2 linked regions of the Homo sapiens genome follow. The protein of the gene in region 1 interacts with the protein of each later gene in a pairwise test. Each region holds a gene or a part of one and is shown on either strand. Other genes may lie near its edges.

Region 1 (3,360 bases):
CTGCTTGCTGTTTTCTGTGACGTTGACTAGGGCCGAAACTGCACTGATGGTGGACAAGGTCCGTGACCCTCATGGCAGCCCCACGAGGACGTCACCATTCTCATTATCCACCATGTGAGGTCTAGGGAGTGGAAGTGACCTGCCCAGCACCACAGGGTCAGGATAGAAGGTCCAGGCCCAGTCCGACCCCAGCAACCACATCTTTCCTGGCTTCAGAACTGACAGCATCTCATGGACACCATGCCCCTCCCTGACGAGGCAGCAGCAAGTAGTGGGGGCCGGAGCTGTGTGTGCACCCTCCCAGGGGGCAGCCCCACACTGCTCAGTTCATCACCTGGCTTGGGTGAAGGCAGCACCTGACTTGCATTTGCTTTATTTTACAATTTTATTTTATTTACTTATTTTAGTTTATTATTATTTTTTGAGACAGAGTCTTACACTGTTGCTCAGGCTGGAGTGCAATTGTGCGATCTCCACTCATTGCAACCTCCGCTTCCCGGGTTCAAGCAATTCTCCTGCCTCAGCCTCCCGAGTAGCTGGGATTACAGGCACCCTCCACCACGCCTGGCTAATTTTTTTGTATTTTTAGTAAGACAGTGTTTCACTATGTTGGCCAGGCTGGTCTCGAACTCCTGACCTCGTGATCCACCCACCTCGGCCTCCCAAAGTGCTAAGATTACAGGCGTGAGCCACCGCACCTGGCCTATTTTATTTTATTTTTTTGGAGACAGAGTTTTGCTCTTTTTGCCCAGGCTGGGGTGCAATAGTGCATTCTCAGCTTGCCGCAACCTCCCGGGTTCAAGTGATCTTCTTGCCTCAGCCTCCCGAGTAGCTGGGATTCACCTTTGCTTTAGAAAGGACAACTCCCCAACTTGCAAACATGGCCCTGAGTAGCTCTCATCTGTGGGCTGCACCCTACCCACGTCCTACCACCTGAATTTGCTGGGCAGGCTGGAGGGACAGAGGCCCAAGGCTCGGCCTCCCCCTCCACTGCTCACCTGCACGGGCCGTCCGGCCGACTCGGTGGATGTAGATCTTGGGGAGCCCGGGGGTGTTGTGGTTGATGACCACCTGTACCGTAGGGATGTCCAGGCCCCTGGAGGCAGAGGTGGCTGGTCAGCTCCACTGTCCATGTGGGGAAACCGAGGCAAGGACTCACCCAGGGTCACTCAGCAGGGATGCTAGGGCTGCCTGACATGCCTGAGGCCAGCCTTCTCATCTGTGGGGCCTTGTAGTAAAAGAGGGAGTGCCCTTGGCAGGAGACTGGGGGCTGCTCACCGGGAGGCCACGTCTGTTGCGATCAGGATCCGGTAGATGCTGGACTTGAACTTGGCTAGGGCGGCAAAGCGTTCTTTCTGCACAGGGTTGGGAAGAAAATTGGGAATGCATGAAGGCAGGGTTTTCTGTGTGAGGCCTCGGGACAGGGTGGAGGCCGGGACAGTCCCCAGCCGTCCATTGAGGAAGGTGGCCATGAGAAGTCAGACCGGGACAAATGAATGACGGCTAAAAGAGATGCGGTCAGGGAGGGCCTCTTGAGCTGCGATATTCTGGGACCAGAAGAGACCAGGTGGCAGGAAGAAGGCGCCCGGCAGAAGGAAGGATCGGGGCCAATGTCTGAGGCGGGGAAGGTATCCCAGGGTGAGGCTGGCGGGCCCCAGGGTGGCCTCACCTGCTTCATCATGGAGTGCAGAGCCACGGTGGGGAAGCTGAATTTGCGCAGCATCATGCACAGAATCTGGCAGGTCCTGGCGGGAAGGATGTGCCTGTCAACCCCTCCAGCTCTCAGGTTCTGGGAAGGTGTTCCTGCCCCCACCCGCCCCTGAGACACCTAGCACAGTGGCCTCATGCAGCTTAGAAAGGAGAGGCAGCAGGCCAGGCACGGTGGCTCATGCCTGTAATCCCAGCACTTTGGGAGACTGAGGCGGGTGGATCACTTGAGGCCAGGAGTTCAAGACCAGCCTGCCCAACATGGCAAAACCCCATCTGTACTAAAAACACAAAAATTAGCCGGGCATGATGGTGTATGACTGTAGCCTCAGCTACTCAGGAGGCTGAGGCAGGAGAATTGTTTGAACCCAGGAGACAGAGGTTGCAGTGAGCCGAGATTGCGCCATTGCACTCCAGCCTGGGGGACAGCGTGAGACTCTCAAAAAAAAAAAAAAAAAAAAGAGGCAGGATGAGGGTTGACAGACGGCTTGCCTGCCTGATGTCCTCTCTGCTGATCCCTCCCTGGAGCTGGAACTGACAAGAGTTGGCCCTGGGACTGCAGGGCTGGAAGGCTGGAAACTGACTTGCTAGGGGTGGTCACTGTTACCAAGAAGGCCAAGAAGGAGCCAGCAGAGGAAAACAGAGGAGAAAGAGGGGCACAGGGAGAAAGGATGGGGACCATCACATAAGCTGCTGGATCCTGCCACGCCTGACAGCCACCCTGCAGCCAAACTTTTCTCTCTTTTTCCCTGAGACAGTCTCACTTTGTCCCCCAGGATGGAGTGCAGTGGCGTGATCTCGGCTCACTGTAACCTCCACCTACCGGGTTCAAGTGATTCTCCCGCCTCACCTTCCCCAGTAGCTGGGACTACAGGTGCTCGCCACCATGCCTGGCTAATTTTTGTATTTTTAGTCGAGATGAAGTTTCACCACGTTGGGCAGGCTGGTCTCGAACTCCTGACCTCAGGTGATCCGCCTACCTCGGCCTCCCAAAGTGCTGGGATTACAGGTGTGAGTCACTGCACCCAGTCCCAACTTTTCTCTTCTGGGAGGTAACGCATTTAAAGCGCCTTGATTTCTGCCCTTCTATCCTGGCTCATGCTGGAAGAGCCTCCAGCTTCTCAATGACCTTCCCAAACAATTCAATGAAGATATGAACTGCCCTCCCCAGGGGTCTCTGTCTGTGCAGACGCACACCAGGCCTGTTAGTTGTCACAACTTCCTCTGAGATGGGACTAAAGGCCCAGGAAAGCTCAGTGACACCCCCAGAACACAGCAAATGGGCTGCTCAAACAGCTGCTTGCAGGGGTTTCCTGGCCCTTCCATCAACGGCTGGGCTGAGGAACCCCAAAGGCCGGCTGCACCTTCAGATTGAGGGACCTTGGCTCCTTGAGGGAAGCCCCCATGACCTCCAGGCTGAGCAGAGGCTGGGGAGTGCTGAGACTGGCTGTGTGTCCCAGACCAAAGACGTCGGGCCACCTCCTCCTTTGAAGGGCGGTGGGAGGGGAGAGGCGGGCCCCGCTCACTTGCACGTGTTGGTGAAGATGATAATGGACCAGTCCTCGTGCTCATCCTGGAAGCGCTGGATCAGGTGGACCAGGTAGGCGTCCTTGACCTTCTCAGGCACCAGCAGGTAGCGCTGGTCCAGCTGCT
Region 2 (3,652 bases), on another chromosome or scaffold:
GAAACCACAGTGTGTTGATGAATGAATAGTTTAAGCAAGGCTGCTAGAAGTTTCATTCCACTATAGAACTGGTTCTGTTTGTGGCCAAGAATTGCTGTCAGTACTAACCAGCTATTTCATAGCTGTTGCATGAGGAAAGGGACTAGAGTAGGATTGTACCCCTCAGTCTATGCTTTGTTTACTCTGAGTGTACAAAAGATGGTGGGCTTTAGGAACAGGGGTAGTGAATAATTTGGGGCACTGTTATTCCTTCTGCTTTACTTTAAGTATGACTCTTTATCTCTTCTACCAGGATATGAATTGTCTCCCACGGCAGCAGCTAACTTCACACGCCGAAACCTGGCTGACTGTCTTCGGAGTCGGGTAAGTAATATATCAGACATTGTTAGATAGAGCAGAAAAATCCTTTGTGCTTCTTTTATATTCTCATTATACATGAGTAGTATTTTTGCCCTTTTTTGGCCTTCCAGAACCCCTCCTGTTGCTACTTGTTCATTCTTAAGTCCAATGTCTTTGTGCACAGTTGTTATTAATAGGTACAGCCCAAAGGGCAAATATTCATTCCCAGAGAATTGGTTGGGACACACCAATATGAAGGCCTGTGACAACTTACCCTTTTTTTTTCCCCCTAAAAACTATTTTTTAGAGCAGTGTTAGGTTCACAGCAAAATTGAGAAGAAGTATAAAGATTTCCCACATTCCTCCTCACCCACATGTATAGCATTCCCCATTATCAGCATCTTCCACCAGGGTGATACATTGTCACAAATGATGAGCCTATATTGACAGTAATCACCCAGGTCCATAGTTTACATTAGGGTTTACTTTTGCTGTTGTGGATGTTATGGGTTTGGACAAATGTATAATGACATGTATCTACCATTACAGGATACAGAGTATTTTCACTGCCCTAAAAATCCTTTGTACTCTACTTATTCATCCTTCTCCATCCCCACAACTCCTGACAACCACTCATCTTTTTACTTTCTCCATGGTTTTGCCTTTCCCATCATGTCATATAGTTGGAATCATGGATTATGCAGCCTTTTCAGATTGGCTTCTTTTATTTGGTAATACACGTTTAAGGTTACCCTATGTCTTTTCATGGCTTGATAGCTCATTTCTTTTTAACATTGAAAAATACTCCATTGTCTAGATATACTACAGGTTATTTATCCATTCACCTACTGAAGGACATCTTGGTTGCTTCCAAGTTTTGGCAATATGAATAAAGCTAATGTATACATCCATGTGCAGGTTTTTGTTTGAACATAAGTTTTTTTTTGCGTAAATACCAAGGAGTGTGATTGCTGGATCATATAGTAAGAGTACGTTTAGTTTTTTCAAAGTGTTTTTGTAACAAACCATATTACTTAATACCTGTGACTGAAAGTCTCTATGTGTTAGTGAAAGTAGAACTTTGAAAATAATAATTCAGATTATTTTTATTTTTATTTTTTTGAGATGGAGTTTCACTCTTGTTGCCCAAACTAGAGTGCAATGGTGCAATCTTGGCTTACTGGAACCTCTGCCTCCTGGGTTCAAGTGATTCTCCTGCCTCCATTTCCCAAGTAGCTGGGATTACAGGCATGCACCACCACGCCCAGCTAATTTTGTATTTTTAGCAGACACGGGGTTTCTCCATGTTGGTCAGGTGTCAGGCTGGTCTCGAACTCCTGATCTCAGGTGATCTGCCCGCCTTGGCCTCCCAAAGTGCTGGGATTACAGGCGCGAGCCACCGCACCTGGCCGGTAATGTGGATTTTTATCTCGAGATTGCTTATCTGTGTTTCTCTTTTTTTCTTTTTCTTTTTTCTTTTTTTTTTTGAGACGGGGTCTCACTCCAGTTGCCCAGGCTGGAGTGTAGTGGTGTGATCTCAGCTTACTGAAGCCTCAACTTCCCGGGTTCAGGTGATTCTCCCACCTCAGCCTCCCAAGTAGCTGGGACTACAGGTGTGCACCACCACATCTGGCTAATTTTTTGTATTTTTAGTGGAGGCAGGATTTCACCATGTGGCCCAGGCTGGTCTTGAACTCCTGGACTCAAGCAATCTGCTGGCCTTGGCCTTTCAGGGTGCTGGGATTATAGGAATGAGCCACTCACTGTACCTGGCGTACTTACCTGTGTTTTTCTATGACTTTTTCCCAAAGCATACAGCATTGTTCCTCCTTACTTATTCTAGCCTTGTTGCTATTCTAGAGCTGTCTCCATTTCATCGACAGCATGTTAAAAGATGCAACACTAAGTTAAGGATTGAATGCATTAAAGATTGTGTAGGATGTGCTAGGAAAGTTCATATGGTTGCTAAAGGTGTGTGTTATTCCCTTCCCACAGGGACTAAATAAATAGAGCCTTACCACGTGATCTCACCCCCTGTGCCTGTTTACTTATCTATGAAATGGAGATAACTTCCTAACCCCACAGGGGTGCCAGGAAAATGAATGCTTGTAAATCATAATATTTAACATTCATGTGACTTTTGCCCAAAGCATTTTGCTTAATAATTTAATCTACTCACTATTCCACTGAGAAAGATAGTCTCTATCACTGAGATGAAGTGAAAGGCATAAAGTGTCAAAGGGACTAGCTCCAGGTCACACAGCAGGTCAGACAAAGCTAAAATAATGGTGCCATAATTATTTGACTATTCTGCCTTTGGTTCTTCAGTAGTGTTTCTAGAACACTGATGCTATTCATATTTTTATTATGGTTTGAGTTTTCATCTGTACTTGCTTAAAATAACAAGTTACTTTTTTTAAAGTTACTTACTACAGATCTATAAAGCAGTTTATTTTCTAGTGCCTAATAATCTTTGACTGATAATTTCTCAATAAATAGTACCTCTCAGTGCTAGCTTTGACCAAGGGCTTGTACAATCTGAGGGATCATGAAGTTTGAAGAGAAGCTAGAGACATGTAGGATTGAGAGGAGGAGGCAAATTTACATACATTGTTTTGTCCTGGGTGAAAGATCAGTAGTCTTTTCTTTAAAAAAAAAAAAAAAAATATATATATATATATATATATATATATATATATATTTTTTTTTTTTTTTTTTTCTTCCAAGAAAGTCATTGTCACCAAGTGGTCTTTTCTTCACTCCTCCTTGAGAAAGGAAAATGGGTCAGATATTAGTTTTTCTGTCACCCAGAAGTTCCTGTGGTGTTCAGCATTTTATGACTTGCCATGTACGATGTTCCTCTGACTTATCAGGCAGAACCGGAGTAAGAATTCCAGCTTTGGGCACAATAAATACTGTGTCATAAATATCACAGACATTAAGTGAATTAAGCTCCTTTTTGGAATTGAGATAAGAATGGCAGTGTGCTTCATGCAAATGCAGTGAATCTGGTTTAATCTTCTCCTAGCAGAAATGTTTGATGTCTTAACAAATATCCCTTGTAGACAGTGACATGGGGCTCTGGTAAATATTGACTACCTCTGCCTGAGCTTTTCCAGTAGGTCCAATCTCTGCTCCCCCATCTCCTTATCAAAATAGATTCTTAGTTCTAAAATATGAATTTATATTTTAGTCGTCTTATTCTGGGAAGAGAGATGATAGTTTGTCAGTGTTCCTAATAAGTGCAAAGTCACCAAATTTAGTATATTTATATGGTCACACCAGTTGGCAGATGTGACTCATTTTGGGTCAG

What was found. The genes of interacting proteins can lie anywhere in the genome.
Region 2: the proteins of DDX49 (region 1) and PSMB2 interact in a two-hybrid assay, tested with the Homo sapiens proteins (one large-scale study listed by BioGRID and IntAct).

The regions. Positions count from the first base shown.
Region 1 is NC_000019.10:18,922,618-18,925,977, reverse strand, and holds part of DDX49 (probable ATP-dependent RNA helicase DDX49), read right to left. Parts: coding exon 3,234-3,360; intron 1,746-3,233; coding exon 1,670-1,745; intron 1,356-1,669; coding exon 1,279-1,355; intron 1,097-1,278; coding exon 999-1,096; intron 1-998. UniProt on the Homo sapiens protein: ATP-dependent RNA helicase that plays a role in various aspects of RNA metabolism including the regulation of mRNA export and the levels of pre-ribosomal RNA. Regulates the stability and synthesis of pre-ribosomal RNA and thereby regulates cell proliferation.
Region 2 is NC_000001.11:35,627,985-35,631,636, reverse strand, and holds part of PSMB2 (proteasome subunit beta type-2), read left to right. Parts: intron 1-99; exon of another isoform or gene 100-201; intron 202-292; coding exon 293-363; intron 364-3,652. UniProt on the Homo sapiens protein: Non-catalytic component of the 20S core proteasome complex involved in the proteolytic degradation of most intracellular proteins. This complex plays numerous essential roles within the cell by associating with different regulatory particles.